Linked DNA regions of Homo sapiens. The protein of the gene in region 1 purifies or fractionates together with the protein of each later gene. This does not show direct contact. Each region holds a gene or a part of one and is shown on either strand. Other genes may lie near its edges. The genes, in order: ZFAND5 and MYH11.

Region 1 (4,611 bases):
AAACATCGAAACTGGTTATAAGTAAAACCATCAAGCCAACAACAGGGTCTTGAGATAACCTTTGAAGCTTATTGTACTGGCCTGCACCAGAAGATGTCTGCATTACTCATTGCTAAAAATGTGTAGCACAGAACTGCACTAGGATTAATTTGTTTACAAGAAGAAATTTAAACTCTACGTTTGGTTTTCACATACAGCAGCTCTATTGAATAACATGCATCTGAATTTTAAGTTGCAAAGGTATCTGAATAATTTTTCATGTGCATCTTTTGTCGAATGTTTTGGTTCAAGAAAGAATGTTTAAAGCTTTTTAAAAGACTTCAGTTCTTAATGTAACTGTACCCTTCTGCATGGAAAATCATAACCAACATGGCTGCAGTAGACTTCTTAGTGGTATCCAGCACCACTTGCAGAGGGCTGCTTTATCATATTGTACTTGGGTGTAGGACTCTAGTGTTCTTGGGTGTATTGCATGGGCTGCATTATCTACAGCATTGTACAATAACAACTAGAAAAGGCAGTATACTTCACTGATGCTTGTCTGGTAATAATCACTTCTGTGTTATAATGGAAGGTTTTTTGTGATGTATGAAACTTGTGTTTTTTATATATAAATGAGTATAGTTAGTGTTGTGGTAATGCCTGTTTTCATCTGTAAATAGTTAAGTATGTACACGAGGCACTACTTCTGATTTATTGCAATGTTCAGTCCTAGTTTTTACTTTTATTCTTAAAGCATTCAGTTTTGCTTTCAATTTTATGTACCTTAGTTCTGAGTTAGACCTGCAGATGTGTACAGATAGTTCATATTTATGTATTGCACATAATCATGCTATTCAGCATTGATGCTATATTGTATTATGTAAATAATAAAAGCCATGTACAGAGGGAAACTTCACTTGTTCATTGGGTTTTTAAGCCATAGTTGGAGTCCTAAAGGGGGAAAATTAGAAAATGTTACTTTACATGGCTATATAATTTTTTTTCCTTTGCCATCGCTGAACTTGTTCAAGTGATAATCAAGAGATATTAGAAGCATTTGCAGGTATGATACCTGATAGGCAGTTTATTTTTGAAGAATTCAATAGGCACCTTTGGGATTAAAACAATTTTAAAATTTGAGAAAGATGAAATTTGAACAATTATGGCCTACCTCGCTTCTCCATGTTGTAAAAGATGATGTTTTATGACAATTCTGAAGAAGAAAGTAGGTATGACTTAGTTTACAAAAAGAGTTCTGTTTTATTTCTGTTTTGGGTTTGGCTCTAATACAGAGATTCACCCATGGACTTGGTCTCTGTAGCGTTTATGCCAGATCATAAAGAACAAGGGGTGACAGGTACATGTTGACTTTACCTGGGGTAAATGATTACCAGAGTGCAACTGTTGCTTCTCTGTGATGGAGTTTGGGGTGGAAATACCCTAGTTTTATCTGTCAGTTCTTTGCATGCTGCTACTTTTGCTTCAAGTTAGGGAGGTACATATGTATGTCAAAGTTCCTATACTGACATAGGGTAGTATTTCTCTGAATATGAAAAGTCACAATTGAGTTGAAAATTTAGAAGTTGAAGATTTAGAAGGGCAACTTAATTTTTCAAGTTAAAAATGGAAGTAAGAGTGGTATAGAGAAGGTAAGATGAGCCCTCGGACTCCATCACTCTGAAGGTCTGAGTAGTAGCAAGAGATAGATTTTTGTTTGGCCAGGCTGCAGTGCAATGGCGTAATCTTGGCTCACTGCAACCTCTGCCTCCTGGGTTCAAGTGATTCTCCTGCCTCTGCCTCCTAAGTAGCTGGGATCACAGGCACCAGCCACCACGCCCAGCTAATTTTTGTATTTTTAATAGAGACAGTTTCTCCATGTTGGTCAGGCTGGTCTTGAACTCCTGACCTCAGGTGAGCTGCCCGCCTCGGCCTCCCAAAGTGCTGGGATTACAGGCGTGAGGCACCGCACCCGGCCAATCAGTTTTTTTTGTTTTTTTTTTGTTTGTTTGTTTTACAAGAAACATTAAACCAGATCAGAACAAAGATTTGTCAGGGTTGTCCATTGACTGGGGAGAAAGGGAATCAGTGTGTAAGGCACCTGAGAGGACTCAGTTCTACCCAAATTCTTGCATTCAAACCTGAATGCAAGGCCATGAAGTCCTTTGAAATGTACAGATATTAAGCAATTTAATAATATACCATGTTTCCCTTACATAAGCAGACAAATATTTACACCCCCATGACCTGAAGTTTTGTTAGGCTGTGACCACATGAATTCGCAGTATAAATGGGTGAGTCCTTTTTGAAAACCTCATCTTCAGTGTGCCTGATCTGTAAAACTAGAGCCTCAGGTTTGATCCTAGGTAGGCTTCCCACAACGTGGGGAAAATTAGTTTGTGAGGGAAAGCTGTTTCTGAGCATTATGGCATAGTGATTAAGATGAGGGACCCTGGAACCAGCCCGTGATTTTGGGCAAGTTATTTTAGGTCCACTTTGGACTGCTTCATCTCTTAAATGAAGACAGCAACCACCTTCAGGAGTGTGAAGGTGACAACACTTAAAACTGTGCCTGGCACATTGTATTTGCTATTGTCTTAATGTTCTGGAATAATGGTTTCCATAACTTGGGAAGAAAACTTTGAGAACAGGATTGGTTACATCAAGTTGTATAGTGAAAAGATAAAGATTTGTTATTTAAACTTGCAGTTTAAAGTCATTAGAATCATTCTTTTCCGTAAGGCTTTCTTTGCAAGAGATCTGCATTAAATAAAGTTGCTAGGAAATAACTAAAATTGGGGAAATAATCTAATAATAGCAAGATGTTAAGCATACTATTATTGTATTTTGGGGGTTGGTAATAACATTCACATGGATTTATCAATACACACTGAGAAGCAAAGCCTCTCAAGCTGTCCCATATCCTCCATTTCAAAGGCACACATACATTTTAGGTAACTCATAATTTAGAAAGGTTATTTAATCTTTTCCACATGTAAATATTTGAATATGTACAAAGACTTGATTTGACTCTTGTCTGTTTTTGTTTTGTTTTGTTTGTTTGAGACAGAGGCTCCGTCGCCCAGGCTGGAGTAAAATGGCATGGTCTCAGCTCACTGCAAGTTCCGCCTCCCGGGTTCACGCCATTCTCCTGGCTCAGCCTCCGGAGTAGTTGGGACTACAGGCACCCGTCACCACACCTGGCTAATGTTTTTTGTTTTTTGGGTTTTTTTGTATTTTTAGTAGAGAGAGGGTTTCACCGTGTTAGCCAGGGTGGTCTCGATCTCCTGACCTCATGATCCGCCCACCCCGGCCTCCCAAAATGCTGGGATTACAGGTGTGAGCCACTGCGCCTGGCCGACTCTTGTCTGTTTGAATGCAAAGTTCTCAATAGTGGTTTTTGTCCATAAGTATTAACTTATAATTTTGGAGAGTGATAGGTATGGTTGCTGGTTGATTAGCAATAAGATTATGTAGCCTTAAACTAGCTAGAAGAGTTTGCATGGGTGAGGCAACAGGCTGTTAACAAAAAGAAACTGGAAATACAGTTTCCCCTGTTTGTTTCTCCTGTTTGTACAATCTGCTTTAAAAACAAGTGAACATGCACCATGTCAGTCATGGTGAATCGGCCAACAGCCAGCCCTTGCCAGTTGACATCACAGTCTAAGATGGGAAACTGGTACAGATAGACATGAAGAGAGCTTAGCAGTGGTTGAGGTGGTGACTAAATATACAGTCATTGAATAAATACCGTGTAGCAAATGTAAAAAAAAAAAAAAAAGTACAACAGAATACAAAAGTGCCATTTAATATTTTATAGCTATTTCTATGCACAAGTGCTGGTTTTAAATTTATATAAAAGCAAAGACTGTTTCTGTGTTTTCTTCCAGAGTATTTCTGTTACAGCCATAGAAGTAAAGTTAATAAATGTAAGACTTTTTTTGTTTTGTTTTGTGCCATAAATGTAAGACTCCATTTTGTCTGCAACTGCTAAGTGCCACTTTCCTTTTATTATGGGTAGGGATGTTGCTAAGGATACTTAAGTAGTTAAGAGCAAGATGAAAGAAGTTACAGATTATTTTCTAGTTGGCTAATCTGTGTTGAATACATTTTTTATGATGATTTTTATTGACACCACAGGACCTCAGCCTGTATATATTGATAATGTAACCAAAGCTGCTCAGGAATTGGGGTAATTTTTCAGTCAACTCAGAAGTTAACAGGAAATCCTTGTTACACATTCTTAAATTTTAGATAAGTGCAAGAACTATTAACAAAATAACATTAAGCACTTACCTTGTAGAGCTCAGGCATCAGCCAGGAAAAAAAATACAAATAAATTAGCCTAATGACCTCATCTTAAATACTTGTGTCTGGGTAAATTTTTCAGACTGATCTTGTGAATATAATCCAGGATAAATTAAAAATGTTGGCTGGTCCTTGCTATGTAATATGCTTCTGCCCTCTTGTCCCTTCCCATCACTAAAAATGTATTCATACATGCAACTACAATACCAGTTGACAAATACGATTTAGATTTTCTGTTGTGTGGTATTTGTCTACTATTATAGAACCTCAAGCATTTCTCTAAAGAAAACTCTTACACATCTTGGTGTTGTGGTTTCATGTCCA
Region 2 (3,815 bases), on another chromosome or scaffold:
ACATTTGGGTTTTTGTCTCTGGTCCAAAATCTTTAGCCAATGGCTTGGCAGTAAAATCCTGAGGGAAGCTGTTGACCAGGTGAGGTGATGTGCAAATCCTATACTCTCTGGGCTCTGGGATATTTAATTTACTATTTATTTATTTATTTTCAAGACAGAGTTTTGCTCTTGTCGCCCAGGCTGGAGTGCAGTGATGGGATCTCAGCTCACTGCACCCTCCACCTCCTGGGTTCAAGCGATTCTCCTTCCTCAGCCTCCTGAGTAGCTGGTATTACAGGCGCCCACCACCACACCTGGCTATTTTTTGTATTTTTAGTAGAGACGGGGTTTCACCATGTTGGCCAGGCTGGTCTTGAACTACTGACCTCAGGTTATCCGCCTGCCTCGGCCTCCCGAAGTACTGGGATTACAGGCATCAGCCACCATGCCCGGCCTAATTTACTTTTTATTAATGCTGAAGCAGAGAGGGCAAGATCTTTTGCCCCTGAGTTCTTCTGGGAAAAATGAAACTGATGGTAAAACAAACTAAAGCAACCTGACATTCTCAGTTGGTCCAGTTTCAGCCCTTTGACTGGGAGTCACAGACGGGTCCCATAAAATGGTAGAGCTGGGCCAGCCTACCATTGATTTATTTTCCCTAAATGAAAAATACAAGGCCCAGAGAGGGCAAGTGACTTGTCCAGAGTCACCCAGCAGGTTTGGGGCAAAGCTGAGACTCGTTACTTGACATCCTAAGGTCTTCCAGAGGCTAATGATTAGCTTGTTTGTGCTCAAAAAATGAAGCAGCCTGGGCGCGGTGGCTCATGCTTGTAATCCTAGCACTTTGGGAGGCTGAGGCAGGCAGATCGCTTGAGCTCAGGAGTTTGAGACCAGCCTGGGCCACAAAGTGAGACCCCTGTCTCTACAAAAAAATGCAAGAATTAAAAAATTAGCTGGGTGTTCTGGTGCGTGCCTGTGATCCCAGCTACTTGGGAGGCTGAGGTGGGAGAATGGCTTGAGCCTGGGAGGCAGAGTTTGCAGAAAGCAGAGATCGCGCCACTTCACTCTAGCCTGGGCAACAGAGCCAGACCCTGTCTCAAAAAAAAAGAATGAAGCAGTTGTTGGTCAGGACAGGACTGTAAACAAGGCTGACACACTCAGATGTGTCAAACATCGCTAATGCCAAAGGTGACAGAGTCATTTGTTTTCATCCAAACATTCGAGAAAGTTGGACGAGGTGACTCACGCCTGTCATCCTAGAGCTTTGGGAAGCCAAGGCAGGAGGATCATTTGAGATCAGGAGTTTGAGACCAGCCTAGGCAAAATAGCAAGACCCCCATCTCTACAAAAAATAAGCCGGGCATAGTGGCCCACACCTGAGGTGGGAGGATCCCTTGAGCCCATGAGTTTGAGCCTGCAGTAAGCTATGATTGCACCACTGCACTCCACCCTGGGCATATAGTGAGACCCTTCCCCCAACCAAAAACATTGAGAGCAGCTCTTGATGAGTGAACTGTACTTCGTGGTCAGCAGTTCTGGGTAGTAATTTCAGAGATGTCCTTTCAGCCCTTGGAGCTGATGCAGGACCTTAAACATGAGCGATGGTGGAGGAGGGAGGGTTGGGAAGGTGCATCAAGGTAGATGAAGAGTGTCCCTGGGGTTGGGCCAACTGGCGGTCCGTCTCTGGTCCAGTGTGTTCACCTTGCCCCCGTCTGATCTTCTGCAGTTGGTATTCCGAGTTGAGTTTGACTAAGTGAGAGCTGCTCTCAGCTTTAACTGCCTTTCCCAAGACAGCCCTTGTTTTTATTCTAAAGCTGTGGTTCTCAACTGGAAGCAGTTTTGCCACCCCAGGGGACATCTAGCAGTGTCTGGAGACATTTTTGATTGTCATGAGTGGAGGAAGGGGTGCTACTGGCATCAGGTGGGCAGAGACCAGGGATGCTGCGGAACATCCCACAATGCACGGAAGAGCTCCCCTCACGACACAGAATGACGCAGCCCAAGAGTCACAGTGCAGAGTTTGTGGCCAGCTGCGGTGGCTCACGCCTGTAATCCCAGCACTTTGGGGGGCCAAGGTGGGAGGATTGCTTGAGGCCTGGAGTTCAAGACCAGCCTGGCCAATATGGTGAAACCTCATCTCTACTAAAAATACAAAAATTAGCCAGGCATGGTAGCGCATGCCTGTAGTCCCAGCTACTTGGGAGGCTGAGGCACGAGAATCACTTGAACCCAGAAACGTGGAGGTTGCAGTGAGCTGAGATTGCGTCACTGCACTCCAGCCTGGGTAACAGAGCGAGACTCTGTGTCAAAAAAAAAAAAAAAAAAAAAAGACTTAGCAACTATTATTACTAGTATTAGTATTATTAATTTGTCAGGCTCACTGAATTTTCTCAAAAATTTGGCAAATTTTTAGGAAAACATTCTCAAAACATTTGGCAAATCTGTGGCTAAATGTTGTTTTGGGGACCCAAGGCTCGTAGGAGCAAAACAGCTTTCAGGTTTCCGGATCTGCCAGAGACTCAAGTGTCCTGTTGTGTGTTTTGTGTCTCAATGAGGGAAAGGGGAATATGTAGCACCTTCCAGATGGATTTGACCTTGACTGCGCCACTGTTTGAAGAGCTTCTCAACCTCCGCAGCTCCACCCCAGCCCAGATATTTCAGGGAATTAGGGTTCCAAGGGGCATGCTATGGAAAACACCATTCTAGCATGAGTCGAAGCTTCTCATCCCCCATCTTGCTGTCTTTTGACCAAAGCAGATTTTGCACGTCGTAACTGTCAGAGACATCAAAGCCAGAGGGAATCCAGCCTGCTCCAAGCTCTCCTTTTTTGTACAGAGACTGAATCTTTGCACTTGATCTTGTTTGTGTTTTTAAGTCTGAGGTTAGACAGGGTCCCAGGCAATGGAGGCGTGCGTGTCCTTTTATTTTTCTGTTGTAGCTTTTGCTATTTTTTCTGACTTTTAAGGCAACTCATCCACATGGCAATTAGGAAGAGCCCACTTAGGGCTGGGCACAGCGGCTCATGCCTGTAATCCCAGCACTTTGGGAGACCGAGGCAGGCAGATCACTTGAGGTCAGGAGTTCAAGACCTCAGCCTGGACAACATGGTGAAACCCCGTCTCTACAAAGAATACAGGAAAATAGCTGGGCATGGTGGCAGGTGCCTGTGGTCCCAACTATTTGGGAGGCTGGGGTGGGAGGATCACTTGAGCCTGGGAGGCGGAGGTTGCCGTGAGCTGAGGTCATGCCACTGCACTCCAGCCTGGGCGACAGAGCAAGACCCTGTCTCAGAAAAAAAAAAAAAAAAAAAAGAAGTCCACTTTACTTGTCATAGTGCTTAGAACAAATGAAACACTCTCCTAGCCCTCTTGGGATGTAATTGGCTACCATCTGCACAAACTCTTCATTATTGCACAAGAATATCAATATACTTAATGCTACTGAACTGTGTTTAAGTGGCCGAGGTGGTGAATGTTAGCTGTATTTTACCACAATTAAAGATAAGAGGGAAGGAAAATGAAGTGTACTTTACAACCAAAAAAGTACGCTTGATGTGCAAAAAAGTGTGCAGCTTGATGAATTTTCAAGAGGATATATTTTTTATAGATGGGGGTCTCACTCTGTCACCCAGGCTGCAGTGCAGTGGCATGATCATGGCTCACTGCATCCCCGACCTCCTGAGCTTAAGTGATCCTCCCACCTCAGCCTCCTGAGTAGCTGGGACTGCAGGTGCACACTATCACAACCGGTTAATTTTTGTATGTTTGCTAGAGACAAGGTTTCACCATGTTGACCAGGCCGGTCTCAGCCTCCTGGGCTCAGGTTATCCTCCTACC

Evidence for each region.
Region 2: the proteins of ZFAND5 (region 1) and MYH11 purify together in Homo sapiens (affinity purification with mass spectrometry; one large-scale study listed by BioGRID and IntAct). This does not show direct contact.

What each region holds. Positions count from the first base shown.
Region 1 is NC_000009.12:72,350,740-72,355,350, reverse strand, and holds the end of ZFAND5 (AN1-type zinc finger protein 5), read left to right. Parts: 3' UTR 1-3,938; downstream 3,939-4,611. UniProt on the Homo sapiens protein: Involved in protein degradation via the ubiquitin-proteasome system. May act by anchoring ubiquitinated proteins to the proteasome. Plays a role in ubiquitin-mediated protein degradation during muscle atrophy.
Region 2 is NC_000016.10:15,846,722-15,850,536, reverse strand, and holds part of MYH11 (myosin-11), read left to right. Parts: intron 1-3,815. UniProt on the Homo sapiens protein: Muscle contraction.